Regions from separate parts of the Homo sapiens genome. Here region 1 is linked to region 2. Evidence: fine-mapped expression QTL. Tissue or cell type: testis. Region 2 holds a variant in brackets; the other region holds the start of a gene. All regions are shown on one strand. Distances are between the middles of the regions.

The links. PIP is the estimated chance that this variant, and not a neighbour inherited with it, causes the effect.
Region 1: GPC6 starts here. The variant in region 2 is fine-mapped to the expression of GPC6 in testis (GTEx, PIP above 0.99).

The regions. Positions count from the first base shown.
Region 1 is chr13:93,220,405-93,231,537 of GRCh38, forward strand. It overlaps GPC6 (glypican 6), which reads left to right and starts at 6,403. Exons shown (of 9, transcript NM_005708.5): 1 at 6,403-7,212. The coding sequence starts at 7,053. RefSeq lists silencers at 3,487-3,672, 7,892-8,186 and enhancers at 3,639-4,589, 6,996-7,838.
Region 2 is chr13:93,510,538-93,521,670 of GRCh38, forward strand. The region is part of intron 1 of GPC6 (glypican 6); the gene reads left to right. Among named protein-coding and RNA genes, the nearest start is that of GPC6, 290 kb to the left of the region's middle. The variant T/C (reference allele first, on the strand shown) is at 5,797.

The DNA.
Region 1 (11,133 bases), 290 kb before region 2:
CTACAGAATCATCTCTCATAACATTAATATCTGAATTTATAACAAGTAAGACAAAGTTAGACGATCTTTTATTAACTACAAAAATGCAAGTTTATTCATTTGTGATAGGTTTTTCACCTTTGTCACTCTTACATTTACATATCTGATTTGGAAACACTTCAAAAATGTGTGAGCTTCAAATAATGGCATTGTCAAACGCATCTATTAATATTGTGAGCCTTCAAGTCAAAATGAAACTCTTCCTGCTATGCAATACACTTTCCTAATGATGTTATGAAATGATGCTTAGCCAGTAGTACATTTGTCAAGATTGTTCCTAGGCATAGTCTTAACAGCAATTTTTGAAAGTAAATATTTGGTTACTCAATATTTAAATATATTTAATACCTAAGATGTAGTTCTAGGCATGAAAATCACTTAGAATCAATGAAGAGTAGACTCCTGGGTCATTAATATATATGAAAATTTAAAAATAGTATTTTATTTAATTTTAGTTTTTGTGATGGGCTCTTACTGTCACCCAGGCTGGAATGCAGTGCACTGTCACCACTCACTGCACCCTTGACCTCCCAGGCTCTGGTGATCCTCCCACCTCAGCTTCCCAAGTAGCTGGGATTATAGGTGCACCCCACCACACCCAGCTAATTTTTGTGTATTTTGTAGAAATAGGATTTCGATATGTTGCCCAGGCTGGTCTCAAACTCCTGGCCTCAAGTACTGGGATTATAGGTGTGAGCCACTGCACCTGGCCTGAAAATAGTATTTTAAATCATTGTGATATCTTAATACATTTTCTATTCTGTGTCCTTGACTATTGATAGTAGTATTTTAGGTAACGATGAGTAAATCTTAAGATTATATGGAATATTTTTATTGTCTAAGTTTCTGACATATATGAAGACTAAACATAATTAAATAATTAGAGTCCTTTCAATTCTCTTGGATAAACCCTGTCATAACTTTTAGGAGAAAATCTGATTAAGTAGATCACATGATTCCCTTCCTTGAAGCCAAACAGTTCTGGCTTCAGAGTCTTAGAAGAATATTGCAAGACAAGAAGAATCTGCTGCCCCATGGTGTTTGGTTTTCCCCCCAAGAGATCATTAGTAACCCAGTTTGTTCTCAGCTGCCCTAAAGATATAATTTTAATTGGTTTATATTAGCACTAGGTATATGTTTAAGGCTCAATAAATGTTAAATGAACTATTAGTATTTCATTGGATATAAACCATAAGATGGAAATGAAAGATTTTCACCATTTCTGGTCATTATTCACCCAGGTTTACCTTTTCTTTCTCTGTAACTCAGCAACCTTCCCATTATCCAGGCACCTGGCAGAGCTACTGTTGTTAAATTTCTGACAGCTTTTTCATTACAGGCCCTGTTTTTCAAGAGGCAGGTTAACTAAGCGATTTTGATTTGTGCCAAGCTGAGATGTGGAATAGACACTTGAAGTCCATTCTCCTGTTTTCCTAAGATTTTATTTGAAGTTATTTGTCCTACTTTGATCTAAAAAATACTAAGAAAAAACTAAAATTCACCTATTATTTTCATTCATGATTTTTATAACTGAGCAAAAGGATGATAAATTCTGCTGTAGCTCTGCTTTTTATTTTTTTTATAAACCCAAGGCTTTTAAAAAATTAACACAAGACATTTCATACTTCAGAGTTATTATTTGATTCAGAAACATATTAACAGCCAATTGTTTTACTTACATGAGATAGGGTAAGACCTTTTTATTTTGTAAAACATGAACCAAATGCTATAATTTGTATTTATGTTAAACGTGTGACATATTCATGTCAAAACAATATTTTTTGTCTCATAACCAAGGACTCATCTTTACTGTAGAAAACATGAAAAATGCAGATAAGAGAAAAAAAATTTAAAATCAACCAACCCAGTAAGATCATATTGGATTTCATTCTCTTTTTATGTCCACTCATTCTTCCCTGAAGTTTTAGAAACTTCTGGAAAGCATTCCTGACTACCTCTCTGCCCCTTCCACATACAGTTACCACATTCTAATCAGTTTTACCTGGTATTTCCATATTCTTTCCACCTACTTCACACACGATTCCATGTGGTTTAGCATCCACCCAGTTTACTATACTAAAATGTTTCTCTCAAAATTTCCAGTAAGCTTCCTTATCATTGTCCAAGTACCATTATCTCCATCTCTTTCTTGTCCACTGCAATTTGTTTTATGTTTGAAAATCTCCTCACCTGGGTTCCACGATGCTACCTAATGTTTTTGTTCTCTTCTTACCTTTGCAACTATTCACTGTCTCTTGCCTTTAAATTTTCTTATTATTCATTGAGTTTGGTGTATAGGTTAAGTTGCTTTTACTTGTAAACAGTAGAATAACCAACTAACAATGGTGTAAACAACAGGATATTTATTGATTATTTAACAAGAAGTCCAGAAGTTGGAAGTCCTAAGGCTGGTTTGGTGACTCAAATAGGAACTCAAGGTTCTTTGCATCCCTCCATTGTCATTGTCTGTCTTCTAGCAATGTCTTGTCTCTTACGCAAAAGATGGCTGTGTAGCTCTAAGAAGGCAGGAGGCTGAGGCAAAATGGCCCTTCTGCTCCTTTAATCAGGGAAAACACTTTTTTTTTTTTTTTTTTTTTCAGAAATCTCCATAAATCACATTGGCTAGAAATGGGTCTTACACCCACCCCTACACCAGGGAAAAGTGCTAATTGTGATTCATCCCTTGGTGGTGAGCACAATGCCCCCTGACATAATCAGTCTTAGAGAAGCAAAAAAGAAAGGGCGATGGCTGTGGGATATGTGACTGACAGGGGCTGCACGACTCGTCTGTCACCTATGGCTGCTCTTCAAGACTGTGTCTATTTTTCTCTACAACTGAAAGTCTCTGAGGTTCCATTCATGTGATGCCCAAAACGGGTTGTTGTGAAAACCAGCTGGGATGTGAAAGTACTGTATAAACAGGAGTTGTATTGTCTTTTATTAAACGTACCATATTTTCCTAATGAGATGCAATCTTTTTTTTGTCTTGTTTTTGTTGTTGTTTGTTTTGTTTTTTTTGAGACAGAGTCTCACTCTTTCTCCCAGGCTGGAGTGCAGTGGCGTGATCTCTGCTCACTGTTACCTCCACCTCCAGAGTTCAAAGGATTCTCCTGCTTTAGCCTCCCAAGTAGCTGGGACTGCAGGCACATACCATCACACCAGCGAATTTTTTGTATTTTTAGTAGAGAAGGGGTTTCGCCATGTTGGCTAGCCTGGTCTCTAACTCCGAAGCTCAGGCAAGCCACTCTCCTTAGCGTCCCAAAGTGGTAGGATTACAGGCGTGAGCCACCACACCCAGCAGAGACACAATCTTAAAATAAATATTTAGTAATTCTTCTTGTGTATTGAACCAAGCACCAACTCCTGCCAATCCTTTCCTCAGAATCTATCTACATCTTTCCATTTTCCATCGTCCTATTCTAGGTATCCGTTTACCTCATGCTATTTGTTTGCTTTTTTTTTTTTTTTTTTTTTGAGACGGAGTCTCCCTCTGTCACCCAGGCTGGGGTGCAGTGGCGGGATCTCGGCTCACTGCAAGCTCCGCCTCCCGGGTTCTCGCCATTCTCCTGCCTCAGCCTCCTGAGTAGCTGGGACTGCAGTGCCGGCCACCACACCCGTCTAATTTTTTGTATTTTTAGTAGAGACGGGGTTTCACCGTGTTAGCCAGGATAGTCTCGATCTCCTGACCTCGTGATCTGCCCGCCTCGGCCTCCCAAAGTGCTGGGATTACAGGCGTGAGCCACCGCGCCCGGCCTTTTTTTTTTTTTTGAGACGGAGTTTCTTTCTTGTTGCCCAGTCTGGAGTGCAATGGCACGATCTCGCCTCACCGCAACCTCTGCCTCCCAGGTTCAAGTGATTCTCCTGCCTCAACCTCCCGAGGAGCTGAGATTACAGGCACGTGCCAGCACGCCCAGCTAATTTTGTATCTTCAGTAGAGACGGGGTTTCTCCATGTTGGTCAAGCTCGTCTCAAACTCCCGACCTCAGGTGATCTGCCTGCCTCGGCCTTCCAAAGTGCTGGGATTATAGGCATGAGCCACCGTGCCTGGCCTCGTTTGCTTCCTCTTGTATGGCATTTATCCATATTCTTTTTTCCTACTACACACAAGATGAATACTACAGCTAGGATTCCAGCCATTAGCTGACCTTTTTGTCTAAACCAGATGCCTGCTCCTCCATATGACCTCTCTCCTGTCTGGTCAGGCCTCTTCCAGGAACTTCCATAACATTCCATTCTCATTCCAATCCCTTGTCTAGGCTCCTGCTGTGGCTCTCAGTGTTAACTGGAATGTTTGACTTTGTCTCTTACACCACTGCAAACAGTGTGACATTACTCAACAAATGGACCAGGCAGGGTTAAGGTCACCAGTAAAGCAAGTTATCTAATTCTTTGGTCTGACTTGAGTTCACAAACCTACCCTAAACTATTTGACTCTCCTGATGGAATTAAACTAATCTATTTAGTCATTCGTCTCATGTAATATCTTTGCCACAAATCCTAAGATCATTTTATAAGTATAGGGACGGTGTGCAATAGTCTAGTGCTATAAAGTTGTATTGAGTGCTCATTCAATACTTAACAATTAGCTGATCTTCAAATAATTTAAAACCACATATACTATGCTTTTACCCATTCTTCCTTTACCTCCATTTAAAATAATGAATTATCTGCTATACTGAGTCAGGGTAAATTACAATGAGTCCCAGGATAAGGTGGTAGGACAGGAAGTGTGTGTTTTTACCCTCTTCCTCTGGAGTGCATAATGCTTTACTATGATACAAAGAGAAGTTTGAAGGAAGTCACGTTGTCAAATATGACAGAAGTAATAACTTGACTGCAATTCCTGAGCCTATCAACCTCACCGTTTGTCCACAAACATAACCAGAATATATTTTATCTTGATTTCCGACTTGAGGGAAAATAAGTTCAGTGATTTAAGATCTGCCAGTTAGCATAAATATTGTGAAAGCAAAAAACTGTGCTAAAATTTTAAGAGAAAAAAAGTTAAGTGTGTTGCGTTTTCAGAAAGATTTAGCTATGGAGTTTTTTTTTTTGTTTTGTTTTGTTTTTTTTTTTTTTGGTTTTGTTTTGTCTTGACCTATGAGTTTGAAGAAGACAAAGTGGCTCTGTAAATAAGTCGACTTCATTTTTAAAGCGTTTGGAAAGGTTAAATGAGGTTGAATCTTGAGAGTCTTTTTGGTGGTTAGGAGAGGGGGAATTTATTAAAGAGAGGAAGACAATGTACCTAATATGTTGTGATGATAATGACAAACTCAAAGATTTAAACTTCATGAGTCATTCTGGTCATTCATATCATCATCAGGAAAACATCTTCATGTGTAGCTTCATAGGTGAGCTCCACAAAACTGTGCATTACCTTGTAGTAGTTTGTGAATAATGTGCTGACCTATGACACATAGCCACGTAAGTGAATAAACACTATTATTATTATTATTTTGTCTTGGTTTTCATTAAACTATCTTAGTAGTTTCAGGAGCTCTGGGTTTCAACACACACTTCTGCCAGCTGACTTTAGTGCGTCCATTAGCATAACAAAGTCAATTAGGCAAACCTGAATTTTCACTTTTATCCCGTTCACAGAACATCAGTGTAAATGGAGACAGGAAGAAGAAATTGGATTGATTCTCCACTTGAGAATTATGTTAACTTGGAAGAAAATGTTAAGTCTACTATGTGAGGGCATCTAGTGAGAGGGAAGGAATCACCTCCCTTCCCCCATTATGTCCCTTTATGCACCTCTGACCCTTGTGCTCTCCTTTTCTTGTTGCTTCTGTGGTCTGGTTGTTAGCTTTCCCGATCCTCCACACATTAGAAACCTAAGCATAATGATTTCTGATCGAAGGCTATGAGATATTTGAAATAAAAAAAGGGGAAATTGTTGAGTCTAGAACCAAACCTTTAAAAATTAAGAACTACCAGTCTGTAATGTGTGCCTTTAGAAAAAAACAAAGTCAAACAGAAATTAGGCAACTAGTTAGAGCCGTGATTGTGCTCTGCCACCCATGAACTCCCGTCTATGACTATTTCCACTCTGGCTTTGTGTTTCAGTAGGTCAGGGACACATATTAAGAGCAACAATTGGAACTGCGTTATCCTTTACCTCCATAAAAATACAGCTTAATAACATGTTAATGACTTAAAATTACCTTGTCTTTCTAGATTGTTTATTGATGTCATTTCAGATCGGTATAAAGGATGTGAAGTGAATAAGAAAATAGGTACGTTTCTTTTTCTTTTTTTCCCCTTTCTACCGACTAGGAAGAGATCCAGTCCAGGTTTTGCCTTTGACTCGGCCTGTGAATTTCGGCTGTGCAATGTGTAGCACGTTTCTTTCTCCCCCCTCCTTTCTCCTTCCCTCTTGCCTCCAGTGACTGTCTCCAGGATTTCTCTCTTCCTATTTCAGGAGGACTCTCACAGGCTCCCACAGCCTGTGTTAAGCTGAGGTTTCCCCTAGATCTCGTATATCCCCAACACATACCTCCACGCACACACATCCCCAAGAACCTCGAGCTCACACCAACAGACACACGCGCGCATACACACTCGCTCTCGCTTGTCCATCTCCCTCCCGGGGGAGCCGGCGCGCGCTCCCACCTTTGCCGCACACTCCGGCGAGCCGAGCCCGCAGCGCTCCAGGATTCTGCGGCTCGGAACTCGGATTGCAGCTCTGAACCCCCATGGTGGTTTTTTAAACACTTCTTTTCCTTCTCTTCCTCGTTTTGATTGCACCGTTTCCATCTGGGGGCTAGAGGAGCAAGGCAGCAGCCTTCCCAGCCAGCCCTTGTTGGCTTGCCATCGTCCATCTGGCTTATAAAAGTTTGCTGAGCGCAGTCCAGAGGGCTGCGCTGCTCGTCCCCTCGGCTGGCAGAAGGGGGTGACGCTGGGCAGCGGCGAGGAGCGCGCCGCTGCCTCTGGCGGGCTTTCGGCTTGAGGGGCAAGGTGAAGAGCGCACCGGCCGTGGGGTTTACCGAGCTGGATTTGTATGTTGCACCATGCCTTCTTGGATCGGGGCTGTGATTCTTCCCCTCTTGGGGCTGCTGCTCTCCCTCCCCGCCGGGGCGGATGTGAAGGCTCGGAGCTGCGGAGAGGTCCGCCAGGCGTACGGTGCCAAGGGATTCAGCCTGGCGGACATCCCCTACCAGGAGATCGCAGGTAAGCGCGGGCGCGCTGCAGGGGCAGGCTGCAGCCCTCGGCTGCCGCACGTCCCACTGGCCGCCCGGCGTCCCCTTCCTTCCCCCTGTTGCTGAGTTGGTGCTCACTTTCTGCCACCGCTATGGGACTCCGCGTCTCCGTGTTGGGCGGCGGATGCTCCTGCGGCTTCTTCGGCGGGGGAAGGTGTGCGTCTCCGCCGCCTCATTGTGTGCACACGCGGGAGCACCCTGGCTCCCGCCTCCCGCTGCTCTCGCGCCCTTCTACCCCTTAGTTGATGGCTCAGGCCCGGCTGGCCAGGGAGCCCGGGTCACTCCGGGGCGGCTGCAAGGCGCAGACGGAGAGCCGAGCCGGGCGCTCACTCCGCGTTCTGGTTCGGGCAAACTTGGAAGAACTGCGACCGCAGTTTGCCCAGCGCCACAGTCTGAGTGGCGCCTTCTCCACTCCCGCCCTTGCGCCGGCAGGGGCGGTGGAGAGACGCGGAGGGCTCCCCCAGCCCCTCTCTCCCCTATCCGTCCTTCGGGCGACAGAGCGCCCGGCGCTCGGGCCGGGGGCGGGCAAGGCTGGGAGGGACCCTCGCCGGGGACCTGGCCTCTGGACGCCGGCGTTTCAAGGCTGGTTTGGGGACTTCACGGGCTGCCTGTTTCAGATGTGGGGCGGGCTTTCCCGTTAGGGTTCCTCAGTGCTTCCCCAGTTGCTGTTGGCCACTCAGGGCCCGGGGACACCCTGCCACCCGGTCTGGAGCCGGCCTCGTCTGCCAGCGAACAGCCAACTTTAGCGGGTGGCTCAGCTGGGGATTCGGGTCCGGGTTCGGGGGCCCCGTGTCCCCCGCATGCCCGGCCACTGGCATTGCTCCACCAAGAGCTTGAGAGCGCCCACCCTTTCTCTCGGCGCCAGTGTGTGTAGCACTTGGTCTCCGACAACTTGCGCGGCAGTCTGGGTGCTTGTTTTCCGGCTCTTAGCTCCAACCGAATCCGAGCTTCTCTGGGGCTCTGTGAATGAAACGTGTCGGGGAGAGATAATCCTTTGGCTGCTAAAGAACAGAACTGAGAGAGGCCGAGGGAGGCCAGGAGATGCTGCGAGGGCGCGGGCTGCTCAAACCGGGCAGCTGAAGTCCTTAGTGACCTCAGATCGTCAAGTCAAAACGCTGAATTTCCACCAGCCTCTGTCTGCTTTTTGCCAAATAACTGGTGGATGGATGAAAAGCATTTTGCAGATATCTTAGAACATCACAGTTTCGATACGTTGAGGAATTACTATTTTCTTATGATTTTCAAGCTGTAGAAGTGAGGGTTTTTACTTACACTGAAATGAACACATTTAAATAAATTTGAGCATTGGCAAAGGGGGAAAAAAAGAGGCGCAAATTACCACGCTCATTATATAGAAGGAGCTTTTTCAGTTCAGAGCCAGACATTCCCTTTGCTGAGTCTAAGTTAGAATCTGTGGTGAATTATAAGCCTACTTTTCTATCCTTGTTACTTCTTCCTTCTTTTCCAGAACTCCTTAATTTGTTAATCAATGAATAGAGAGCGACTGTCCCCACAGCTCCTTAAGTTTCTTAACTCTCCTTCTCCTTTGTCTACTGTTATTTCATTCTTTTTAATTAATTGATAAGGATCAGCTTCGCTTTTTTTTTTCCCTCCCCAAATCTCAGGGAATTCAACTTTTTAAAAGGTTTATAGTATGGATCACTTCTTCTAGGAACTTTTTCTCCTTTAATCTGGGCTTTTTCAAACGGTATCTTTTAAGCACACAAGATATTTCCCAACATGATTTCAGATAAGATGTCTCAAAGAAGAAAATAGTTAGGTATTTTTAAATTGCTTCGGTATTCTTTAGAGGATAATGGGACTCTCAGGAGACTAGAGTTCATCCTCAGCATCAGGCACATCTCTTTAATATCAAAGTGAAGATTTTCAGTGTAAAACAATTTCTGTAGTCACCATGAATGTTTGTTGAGAACATTCCCAGGGGTTCATGTAAATTCTTCGGTGGATATTTAACTAAAGAGGTTTTTGTTTTTGTTTTTGGTTTCCTCCCCACCTTTTTACAATTACAGTGTTTGCTTATTAGCTATGAATTTCTAAAATGTGTGCACTTTTTTTTTTTTAAACTCACCTACTTTCCATGAGTAAGGGCATACTGTTAACTTTGCTTTAAGCCTTGTGTCCTTTGATGCTGGTAGACATAATCAAGATGCAGGTCACCACAGGGTCAGAGGCACATTTAATAGGAAAATAATGAATTGAAAGATAATTGTGTTTTTTAAGGATATACTTGTTTTTTCAAAATCAACTTTACTTAATGCTACCTATTGCTGTTTTAATAATCACTTAGGAAATATACCCTGTTGTTACAGGAACACACTCTATCTCTCCTCCCTAGTTCTTGATACTGTTTACATTTAATTATCTAGTGTAAGTGGTTATCTTTTCTTAAACTCTTTTTTATCCTTTGCCTTGATTGGGCATCTAATGGTTTGCTTGAAGAATTTCATGTGTCTTCAATCTGCCAGGGCACATAAATTTAAAAGAATTGCTGTTCAGACTTCAGATTCATGACAGCTGTTTCTAATTGAAAGCTATTTGCAGGTAGCTTGCTTAGTGAAATAACTTGAGAAGTAATAAGGACATTATGTTTCATCATGACATTATCAAAGTTTTACTCAGAACTCACAATTGTGAAATAGTGTTGCCCTTTTCTATTCTAGGATAGAATGGAAACCCAACAGATGAGGAAGTATCACAGGTAATATATAAAGTTATGCTTTCAGAGAATGCTTGGGAAGGAGGAGGCCTTCAAGGGGCAGTTTGCACCATCAGTTTTCACTCAGCACTGATTTTAAACCATGGCAAGGAGATCAGATAGACTATTTATCCTTGTTTGAAAAACTTCCAAAGGAGTAGACTCTTGATCCCCTTTCAGCAATCCATTCTAATATTTAGCAATTCTTGTGGTATAGAAATGTTTCCAGATATCTAGCCAAAAGCCTTCACAATATGCTTGCTTATTTTTTCTTGTTCTATCCTCTGGGAAGATACTGAGCAGTGAATCATCAGGTTCTTTGTTAGGAGAGTTACTCTCATCAAAGGTCAGTGTGAAACATTCTAGTCTTTCCTCATTCATCAGAATTATGACCTAAGTTTCCAATCCTCCTCATGTTGGTGGCTCTAAACTTCTAAAGGAACTCTACCACTGAAAATAGCACCTGCTTAAAACTCTGGGAAATTCAGAGAATGTTGTTTCAGGCTTACTCTGCCACTGTTTTATGCCTTGAGTCTTGCTAGGATCATTAATTATAACACTTTGTAGTTAACAGTGACTTATTGGCCTACATGATCATGTTTTCATTACTTATGTAATGTGACATTATTTAACAATCTCTTATATAGAATTTACTATGTGCCCATCACCTACTTAAAAATTATTACCTTTATAATATCACCTTACTGAATTCTTCCAATAACTTAGTAGATACTACACATTAACCCCATTTTATAGATAAAAAGGCTGTGTGACAGGAACTTTAATAAACTTACCTAAGGGTGACTCTACTAGTAAGTAATGAGGCTGCAGTTCAAACCCAGGCACTCTGACTCCAGGGTCTATATACCTAACTTGGCTCACTGCCTTACAGTATTAAACATTCACCATTTATTTTGAATGAATGCATGCAAAATCTATTCTTTCCTCATTTCATATATATATATATACGTATATATATATATACATATATATATATACGTATATATATATATATATACATATATATATATATATGTATATATATATATATATATATATATACGTATATATATATATATAGTCTGGTATTATTAATCACTATATACATATATGTATCCCTTCCAGTTTTGCATGCTAAATACGTTTCTATTTTGTTCCAACGTCTCTAATTCTCAA
Region 2 (11,133 bases):
ATACCACATTTTCTTCATTCATCTGTTAATAGACAGTTTGATTCCTTATCTTTGCTATTGTGAATAGTGCTGCAAGAAACATGCAAATGCAGGTATCCTTTGATGTTTTGGTTTCATTTCCTTTGAGTATATACCCAGTAGTGGGATTCCTGGATTGAATGGTAATTGTGTTTGTCGTTTTTTGAATAATCTCCACACTGTTTTCTACTAGCGTGTTACCACTAACAGCGTATAAGCTTTTTCTTTTCTCTACATCCTCACCAACATGTTATTTTGTCTTTCTAAGACTAGCTATTCTGACCGGGGTAAGATGATATCTCATTGTGGTTTTGGTTTCCATTTCCCTGATCATAAGTGATGTTGAGCAGTTTTTTTGTATACCTCTTGGCCATTTGTATGTTTTCTTTTGAGAAATATATATATATATATATATGTGTATATATATATGTGTATATATATATATATATATTCATGTCCTTTGGCCATTTTTTAATGAGATTATTTGTTTTTTTTTCCTGTTGAGTTTTTTGAGTTCCTTGAATATTCTGGATGTTAGTCCCCTGTCGGATGAATAGTTTGCAAATATTTTCCCCCATTCAACAGGTTGTCTCTTTACTCTGTTTATTATTTCTTTTGCTGTGCAGAAGCATTTTAAAAATTAAGTCCCTTTTGTCTCCTAGATTTTATTGTCTGATCTTTTAAGGTCTTAGTCGTAAGTTCTTTGTCTAGAACAATATACAGGAGGGGTTTCCTTAGGTTTTCTACTAGTATTTTTATAGTTTCAGGTCTTATATTTAAGTCTTTATTTTGAGTTGATTTTTGTACAGTGAGAAATAGAGGTCTAGTTTCATTCTTCTGTGTATGGATATTCAATTTTCCCATTTATTGAAGGTGGTTTCCTTTCCCCAATATAAATTTTTTTGGCTTTGTCAAAGATTAGTTGGCTCTAAATATGTGGCTTTATTTCTGGGTTCTCTATTATGTTTCATTGGTCTGTGTATCTACTTTTTTCCAATACTGTGGTGTCTTGGCTACTTTAGCCTTGTAATAATTTTTGAAGTGATGTAATGGAATACTTCCAGCTTTGTTCTTTTTGCTAAGGATTGCTTTGGCTATTTGGAGTCTGGTTCCATATGAATTTTAGGATCGTTTTTTCTAATTCTATGAAGAATGACATTGTTATTTTGATAGAGATTGCATTGAATCTGTAGATTGCTTTGGGCAATATGGTCATTTTAATGATATTGATTCTTCCCATCCATGAGCATGGGATATTTTGCCATTTGTTTGTGTTTTTTCAATTTCTTTCACCCAAGTTTTGTAGTTTGCCTTGTATAGATCTTTCCCCTTTTGTTTAATGTATTCCAAGGCTTTGGGGTTTTTTTGTTTGTTTGTTTTTGTAGCTATTTTAAATGGGATTGCCTGCTTGATTTCTTTGTTGACTAGATCATTAGTGGTGTACAGAAATGCTACAAATTTTTGTACATTGCTTTTGTATTCTACAACTTTACTGAATTCATTTATCAAATCTAAGAGATATTTTGGTGGAATCTTCAGGCTTTCCTAAATATGAGGTCATATCATCAGCAAAAATGGACAATTTGACCTCTCCTTTTCCAATTTGGATGCATTTTATTTCTTTCTGATTGCTCTGGCTAAGACTTCCAGGGCTATACTGAATAAAAGTAGTGAAAGTGAGCATCCTTGACTTGTTCCAGTTCTGACAGGAAAGGATTTCAACTTTTCCCCATTTAGTATGCTGTTAGTTGTGTGTTTGTCATATATGGCCTTTGTTATATTGAGGTGTGTTCTGTCTATGTTTAGTTTGTTTTTAATCCTAAAGGGATATTGAATTATATAAAATGTTTTTTGTGTGTCAGTTGAAATCGTTTTTTCTTTCATTCTATTGACATGATGTATCAGCTTAATTGATTTGTGTATCTTGAATCATCCTTGCAGTCCTGCTATAAATCCTACTTGATCATGGTGTATCATCTTCTTGATTTGCTGTTGGATTCAGTTTGCTTGTATTTTATGGAGGATTTTTACATCTATGTTCATTAGGGATATTGGCAAGTAGTTTTCTTTTTTTGTTGTGTCATCTGATATTGGTTATCAGGGTGATGCTGGCCTCATTAAATGAGTTGGGAAAAATTTGGTTAGGAGAAGGAAGAAGATACTAGTTATTTGTGAGGTTATGTGGTAACTGCAAGTGGGTTGATTTTAGGATAAAAATTTGTAGCTAAATGGTAGGTTGTTTCAAAAATTGGCATTATCTAGATATTAAACAATAATATGCTAAAAGGATTTTCTATACACAAAAGCAGATAACTATAATATCAGAGATATTATAGAACTGAGAATGATAAAACTACTTTTTCTAAAGTATATATGAAAATCAGATTTAAAAAGGCTACTACAGTGCAAGGTGTCCATTTAACTTGAGTAAATTAGCTATGCTAGATATTCATGGCTGATCTGTATCATATGCTAGGAGGACTTGACTTTGTTAGCTATTGTCCTTGAAAAACTGAGCCATTGCTGTAAACTGGATTACAAACTTGAGTCCCTGGAATTAATCTTTGCTTTTCACTGGTTCTCTCTCCAGTGTAGCTTCTGTTGGGAATCAAGCGGGAGTAAGATGAACACTTTGTGTAGTAGTTTCCACCTTTTTTATTACAGCTCAGACTTTAAATCTACATTTTACTCTCATCAATAGAATCATTCTTACCACCTCACCTCAGTCCCCGGATGCCCCTGGGATGATAAACCAATGACAGTTACAATTGACCTTTTGTTTTCTTTTCATTTTCTGCCTTCTTTCAATTGTGTAATTGTAAAATACATGTGTTCAACATAAACCTAGCCAAATCAAATTGGTGATCTTTGCCCTGAAAATTCATTGTAATTTTACTATTGTCACCTTATATTGTTTGACTATGATTCTAGGTTTTACCTTTGTGTCTGGTAATTAGTAAATGTTGGTATTCTCAAAGTGAATCTTATCATGTTCTTCTGCCTTGTGGTGTTCATTATAATGCACCAGAGATATTCTAAAATAAAAGCCTGGATTTGGGATTTAGGCAATTACTCAATAACTCCTCCTGCCCTTTTGCAGTCTCTTGGTAGTCACTCAAAGGACACAGCTATTGCACGATTGCACGATTTCTGTGATGCCAGACTTGTCTGACTAAACCTCTACTTTATGCAGACTGAATATTTTTATAGCCCTTCATTAAAGTCCTTGGGTTGTAAGTGCTGAGAATCAGCCTCTCTGATGATTTTCCCAAACACCAGTGGCATGAAATCCCATGAACGAATCCTTTGCTGAATGATGGCTTTTTTTTTTTTTTTTTTCGGTGTTTCACTCTCGTTGCCCAGGCTGGAGTGTAATGGAGCAATCTTGGCTCACTGCAACCTCCACCTCCCAGGTTGAAGCGATTGTCCTGCCTCAGCCTCCCAAGTAGGTGGGATTACAGGCACCCACCACCACGCCCAGCTAATTTTTGTATTTTTAGTAGAAACAGAGTTTCACCGTGTTGGCCAGGCTGGTCTCAAACTCCTGACCTCAGTGATCCACCCGCCTCAGCCTCCCGAAATGCTGGGATTACAGGTGTGAGCCACCACTCCTGGTCACATTCATCTTTTCACTAGTAACCAGAAAGACTTGGATTATTTGAGAAGTTGGTTGGCTGAACAGACGTCTGTGTGGCAGGAGGGAAGCCATAGGTGCTCTGTTGGTTTAGAGAGCCTTACTGCACTCAATCCCAGAATACAAGAAGAGTCAACTGTTAGCAGTTTTGCGGTCTATTTTACCTTTTCTCATAATATTCTCTCAAGGGAAAATAAGACTCACAACCACTCAATAACATTAAGGAACAAGAATAAATATGGACTCCAAAAATGTTAGGGCAAAACTCTACATGGGGCCAGAAGCTCCTTGGAACAGATAACTTTGAGGCTGTATTGTAAATACACAGTGAGTATAATTTATCTTTTCAGAGCATCTCACATCCTTGGTAGGCATATGCAATGGTCATTGGAACTACTCCCACATATACAGATTCTCCTGCGTATGGGCACATGTTAGAATTTTATTTCACTATTCCCTTTTAAGTTAGGTATGGCTACATGATTTATTTTTCTATGAAATGTGAGTAGAAATGAACTGTCTCGTTTCCAGATGGAGGCTTTAAAAGTCAGACTGGGATTTGTTCAGAGAAGGGAATGAGTTAGCCTGAATTATTGAGTGTTCATGAGGGACAGAATCCCCTACCAACCTGTATTGGACGTAGAGTCGTCGTGAGGAAAAAAACAAACAAACAAAACAAACAAACAAAAACACATTTGGCATTGCTTGTTATATGAAAATTACATAACTCATTGCTATGGGCTGAATATTTGTGTGTCTCCCAAAATTCATGCATTGAAGCTCGCATCCCCAGTGTGATGGCATTTAGAGAGGGGGCCTTTGTGGGGTAACCAGGTGATGAGGGTGGAGGCTCATGGTAGTATCTGTGTGCCCCTACAAGAAAACAGAGAGCTTGTCTCCTTTCTCTCTTGCTATCTCCACTGCCTGTCTTTGCTCTCACTCTCGCTTTTGTCCTCTCTCTGCCATGTGAGTGAGTATACGGTAAGAAGATGGTCATCTTTAAATCAGGCGAAGGGTCCTCACTAGATGCCAAATCTGCTGGCACCTGGGTCTTGGAGTTTTCAGCCTCCAGAACTTTAAGACACACATTTCAGTTATTTAAGCCACCCAGCCTATGATCTTCTTGTTACAGCAGCCTGAACTAAGACATTAATCTGGACTGTTACCATTTATTTGTTTTTATAGCTCTTTTAAATTGCATGAAGTAATGCATGCTATGTAGGGATAATCAAATATGTTTTTATAATACATTTAATAGATGTCTATTCAGCAATTTCTTTTGGAGATGGATTGGAGCTTGGATTTTGCCTCCACCAATGGCTAACTTCAGAAACTTGGGCAAATTATTTAAATTTTGTGAGCCTTATGTTTCTTCAATTGCAAATGATGGCAATACCACTTACCTCATAGGTTTGTCCTGAAAATGAAATGATTAATTGTATGTAAGTCACCCAGTAAAATTCCAAAGGCAAAATAAATACTGAAAATATATTCATTCTTACTAGTCTGTCTTTTAAATACTGACTAGTGACGTATCATGTTAAATAAATGCTCTTGCTCTCAAGTATCTTGTAGTAGAGTATTTAGACACACAATTAACCATAAATAAAATACAAAGTGAAACTCACTATTAAGGATCCACAAATGAAGTACTTGAAATCTCAGAAAAAGTCATATCTATAGAAAAATTCTATAGAAATTTTGAGCTCTAGGCACACACGCAGAAAGCCAAGGAAAATAGTAAATATCTAGCAAAACTCACATAGTGGCTTATGTAAGTCATTTCCTAAAAAATTCCCAAGGTATTTTTTTAACTTGTTTTATCAAAATCCATTTAGAGATCGACAGCTTTTCTTGCAACATTGGTGAAAGCTCTTTCAGAACTCTGTTACTGTAGAAGCTTGCCATGTGAAAAATTCATTAGCAGCAAGTTTGAAATCTTAAAAGCCAGTGTGTGTTTTAGAGGAGTAGCTAGCCCATCAGTAAAAAGAGTAGAGTAAAAGGTTCACATCAAAAGAGAAATCTTCACAGCACCGATGTTATCAACTCTCTCCAGATGTGCAGTTTTCTATGTTGCACTCACTTTTTCATGTGTCATTAGCAACCTTATATCTTAACATGGAATGCTTGAATGGAGTCCTTAT[T/C]AATGAAGTCGCCAAGCCCAATCTATTCATCAAATATGGTCTTGGGGTTAGAACATTCTGGAATATGCAGGGAAGAATGCCCAGAATTGTGGACCTCCCATACTGCCAATTTACCAGGAGAGTTTTGCCAGGAAGTGGGGCACAGGTACAATTGGAAACAAGCTGTGAATACATTTTTCAAGAGACAGGCATAGGTTTTCAACACCAGTAAAAGGTTTCTGAACAAAAGCAAAAATCAATGTAAGTTAAGTTTTAATGGGAAATAAAAAAAATAATTACTTATAAAAGTAGGAAAAGAAGAAACCCTTCAAGATAGAACAACATGGGATATCCTATCTATGCACAAAGCAAAACAAAACCAAAAAGGTATTTATTTTGCATTTTTATATTATGCTCTGTGAGCAACAGGTGTATAAGAACATATATGTGGGATGAAGGAAATTGGTAGCTTAGCTGCCTGTGGGCTCCTCTGAATTTTTAAACTATAAAATCACCTCCAGCTTTTGAATTGGGTGGATATGCAGTTAGCTAGGTTTTGCAGCAGTCTCTTTGAATTAGAAAGATCATTACCATCAGTAGCTTGGTCAGGACTGTATGTGGTGGGGCCAAAGCTAACCAATAGTACAAAGAGACTTTGAATACATGTTCTATGCCAGGCATTATGTAGCTCTCTCTTGCTAGAAAAGCAAGATGTGGATTTTAAGGGAAAATTATTTTGAACTCACTTGTTATTTTTAGATGCATTCATAGACAAAGAGAGAATTACTGTGTACTATTGTCACCAAACGTTAAAGAGAAATATGAGGTTTAATAAGGCAACAAGAATCACCTGATACTTTTCCTCTTGTACCTTGTGTCTCAGAAACACCTTTCATCACAGGAATGATGGAGTATCTAAGGAAGATGTACTTAGGAAGAACAAATGTAAGATAATATGATTTCTTGCCTCATATTTAATTTCCATGGCCCTTTGGGGATAATGTGTTTTCAAGGCCAAGCCTCCTTTTCAGGCAACCAGATAATAAGAAGTGCTACATTTTCATATGCTAACTTGGGAAAATTATTCATTTTTAAAATTTAATTGCTTTAATTCTTGAAGTTCATGGCTGTAATTTTCAGATGATGTGAATCACTCAGTGGAGGTTTTGTTTGTTATTTGTTTGAAATTAGATTCTTTTTCCATTCGCCATAATTAATTCATTCACATTTGGTGCTCTTTGCATTTTTATGTTCTTTATGCTTTATTTGGGAAGTTAATTTGGAGAGAAATTAACTCCAACTAGACTTCAGTGGCTGTTGTAATTTTTTTAGTCAGATCTGCCCAGAACATCACTTAAAAATGACCATTTCATAGGTTTGTTTCAAGCATCAGTATATTGTGGGTGTTAACCTATCTTGGCATGTACTACAGCAAGAGCTCTTAATAACTCCAGTGAGGGAATACAAATCTTTCTTTGGGTAGAGTGACAAGGAGTGCCATGAAAATGCCTTCATATTAGATAAGGTTCACATTTAAAAAGCACATAAGTCAGCAATTTTAGTCTATTCAATGCTTAAAATCAGTGGCTATTTTTCCTTTTCAGCAAATCTCTCTTCTAATTTTAGTTATAGTAAAATTCAGGGAAGAAATTGCTTATTAATATTATTATTATTATTTTTAGGGGTATATGTAGTAAAACTGTAAGATGATACTTACATCCAGGTAGTAGCTTCTTGGAGTTTTGAATGTCAAATTTATTCATTTATCAAACAGTTTTTCAGTTTTGTTTGGGATACAAAGTTGATTCTTTTAAAGGAGCCTCAGAGCACAGGAGCTCACAGAATCCTGAATTTTATGTCTATCGAAGAGAAAATGGTGGTTAAATGCTACTTCCTCTCTGAAAACTTATCTAGACAGAGTTTTGATCATTATCTATGTCCTGTTTTGGAGACTTCCCGGCTTCCTTAATTATTTTCTTTATGTGGATACATTCAAATGTAAACCTATAAGTGTGCCTCTTTTTCTGAGCACAGATGGGCCTTAATCTAGTTCCGTCAACTCTTCTTGCTTCTCCACTTTTCCAATCTGTTAGTCACACCTCTATCAGACACCTGGAGGCAAACCCTACTACCGTCTTTGACACCTCTCTCATCCTTAGCTTCACTTCTTGAAAACAGAGCCTTTGACATCCTAATTCATATTCTGATATTTAAAATATGTATAAATTGAACATTTCATTAGGGAAATCAAAGTTCCTTAACTGTTATCTTAGTAAACATCAAGTTTTCTCATAGTGAGCTACAAAATAATGCCAGCAGAGGGAAGATAACACTTGCTTTGGGACTCTCTTGGGCCAGTAGTTAAGCCTCTGTGAGCCTTTGTTTTCTTCTCTGCAAATGGTAAATGCAATAGGGCCTTTCTCAAAGAATTACTGTAATTCTTAAATATGATTAAGATTTAAAAGCACTTTGTTTCCCAAGTAGCAATATAAATTGTGTTTATTATGCAGGACTGTGTTGATAGTTAACAAAGTGTAAGACATCAGTATAAAAGAACAGGATTTCTAGGCTAAACCAGGGATTAGCAAACTAAGGTCAGTAGGCCGTACCTAGTTTGCACACAGTATTAGTAAATAAGGTTTTATTGGAACATAGCCACACTAATTCATTTATGTATTGTGTATGGCTGCTGTCATTTCAGCTACACAGGCAGAGTTGAGTAGTTGTAATAGAGATCTTATGTACCGCAAAGACTGAAATAGTTAAAAATATTAAAAGCCTAAAGTATTTTTCTAAAATTTAAAGCTTAAACTATCTGGCCTTTTGCAGAAAAGTTTGCTTACTTCTGCCTAAGGCACCTACCAAAACTGGTGTAACTTTTCTGTATTCTTCTACATTCAAACTGACCATCCTCCAATTTATAGAATAGGTTTTAGAATTTTATCTCATTTAACATTTATTAGTTTAATGAACTTTAAACAAATTATAGAAGATGTTACATATGCAAACATGCACATCTGTGTGTTTCTGTTACACACACATACACACACATTCTTCCGTAAAAGTGGGGCAATTTCCACACATTAGCAATGTACAAAAAGCTTAAACTACATTTTCCTAGTACAAGGCCAAGATAGAAACACTAAACAAAATCTGATCTTCAACCTGAAAATCACTTTCTGCATAATAATGTCTGAGTTGATGAAGGGAAAAAATAAAAGGGATACACTTTAATTTGCACTTGAGTAGATTATTTTTTTCTGATGTGATTATGACAGTTAAAATAAAACACTCACCAAAGCACATCTTAGCATCACAGTCAATGTTTGAGTTTGATTGCATTCCAGTCTGCTGGGTTCTGGGAGGCGGATGACACTCCCCTCTTAGAGAAACAGGTAACCATTCAATAGAGCCTAAATAGATGAGGCTCTTTCATGCCTGGCTCAGACTGTAATTAAAAGAAAAATCTAAAAGTTATATTTCTAAGTTACTCTATATTCTTTGACTCTGTATTCTTTGTGAAACAGAAAATGTGAAAATTCAACGTCTTTAAAAGAATGCTTTGCTATGGTTTTTTATAAAAACTGAAACGAATTTTGTCATCAGCTAAGAATTGTATTAAATTGAATTTTGTAATGAAACAGTGTAACTATTCTCTGCAAGACTTATTTGACATCTTAATTTTCTTGCCTATTCTAACATAGAAAGTGTCAGCTGTTCATTCATCATAGATTTTACTAAACTTCAGCATATAAACTTGTGATGAATGATTAAGACACATTAGGCCAACTGGGTTGGCTCTAGTTTTCATTTTCAAGAACCTTAAAAAGCTTTGATTTGCAGCTGTTAGAAGCAAGTTAAAATATTATCAGAATACCACCAACTTGGAAAGTGCAGCTGATATATTACTGGTGACTGTGCGAAATTATAGCATTGTCCAATCCAGGTACCAGATGGTCCATCTTCCTTGATTTGAGGAGCATTGGTTGACTACAAATTTTACTTGCTGCCCTAGGCTTGTTATTGACCATTAGCATGTGAGTTACAGATTCCTTAAATTCTTTGCCAGGTGACAAATTGACCTATTAACAAGTCACTTTCTCAAAAAAATGCATTAATGTTTTTCAATCAAAGGACCAGTTGCAAATGAGCAACATTTTAATAAGTATTAGTTTTGCTTTAAAGGAATCAGTAAGTATCCTCACAAGCCAAGTTGCTGAAATAGACTTTAAAAAAAAAAAACACTTGAAGATTTTTAAGAGTGTTGGAAAATTTTGAAACAAGTCTTTTAAAAATATAATTAACATGTAAAGATTCTCTGTGTTTTAATTCTTTAATAGCATGTTCTTTTGGTGATTTTCTGTGAATAGCATTTATGGAGTATAGATAAAGTAGAAAACATAATAAATTTGGACTGTTTTTCATAGTAGATAACTTACATGGACAAACTATACAGGCATGGAGATGACATAATAAACTTATAGACAAACTATAGACAAACTATACTATAGACAAACTATATATACTTATAGACAAACTATACAGGCATGGAGATGACATGATATTGGAGTTCAGAAACCCACCTTTTTACTTCTGTCTCGGAACTGATGAGGTGAGCCAAAGAGTTTCATCTATAGAGTGTGGAGGTCACGTTAAGTAATCTCTACATTATCTTTTACATTTAAAATATAAGAACTTTAGTAATCTAATTGTGATTATCAATGGAAATGTACACGTATATGTTAGATTTTGTATTTAAGAAGTAATTTCATTAGTACTTGAAATTTAAGGGAATATAAGGAAATCTTTTAGTGGAATACTGCTGTCTCTGAAAACCATCACCTATAAAGCATCTAGTTGAACAGATTTTAGGAATCTGTTGAGATAATTTATTCTAGAGTCTTAAACTGGAATAATATTGCATTTTCTTTCTAAGAGAGATACAGAAGTCTAAGAATTAACTCCAGGGGAAGATTTATTTTCTTTTCTTTTCTTTTTTTTTAGGGTGAAAGTGGTATATGTACTAAATGAAATTATCTTGATGCGATAGACCAGTATACTTGGTAAAGCTACTTGATATACTAATTTCATCACTTAAATGTGACAGCCACTGGGATTTCCAGCAGTGCTACTATTCTGGACCTATTAATGCTTCAGAACTTACTTGTCTTATGTTGGCAGGTGCTTGTGAACGCTGGTGCAGGCTGATTAGCCATTGCTTTTACAGTTATCACTTTTACTTTGAACTGTCTACAATGCCTGCCTTATTTCTGAAGGAGGGTGCCCCATGGGCTTCCATGGCTCTTCATACAGCATGACTGCTCTTGAAAAATGCTAACAGGTTGTGACAAATACTAA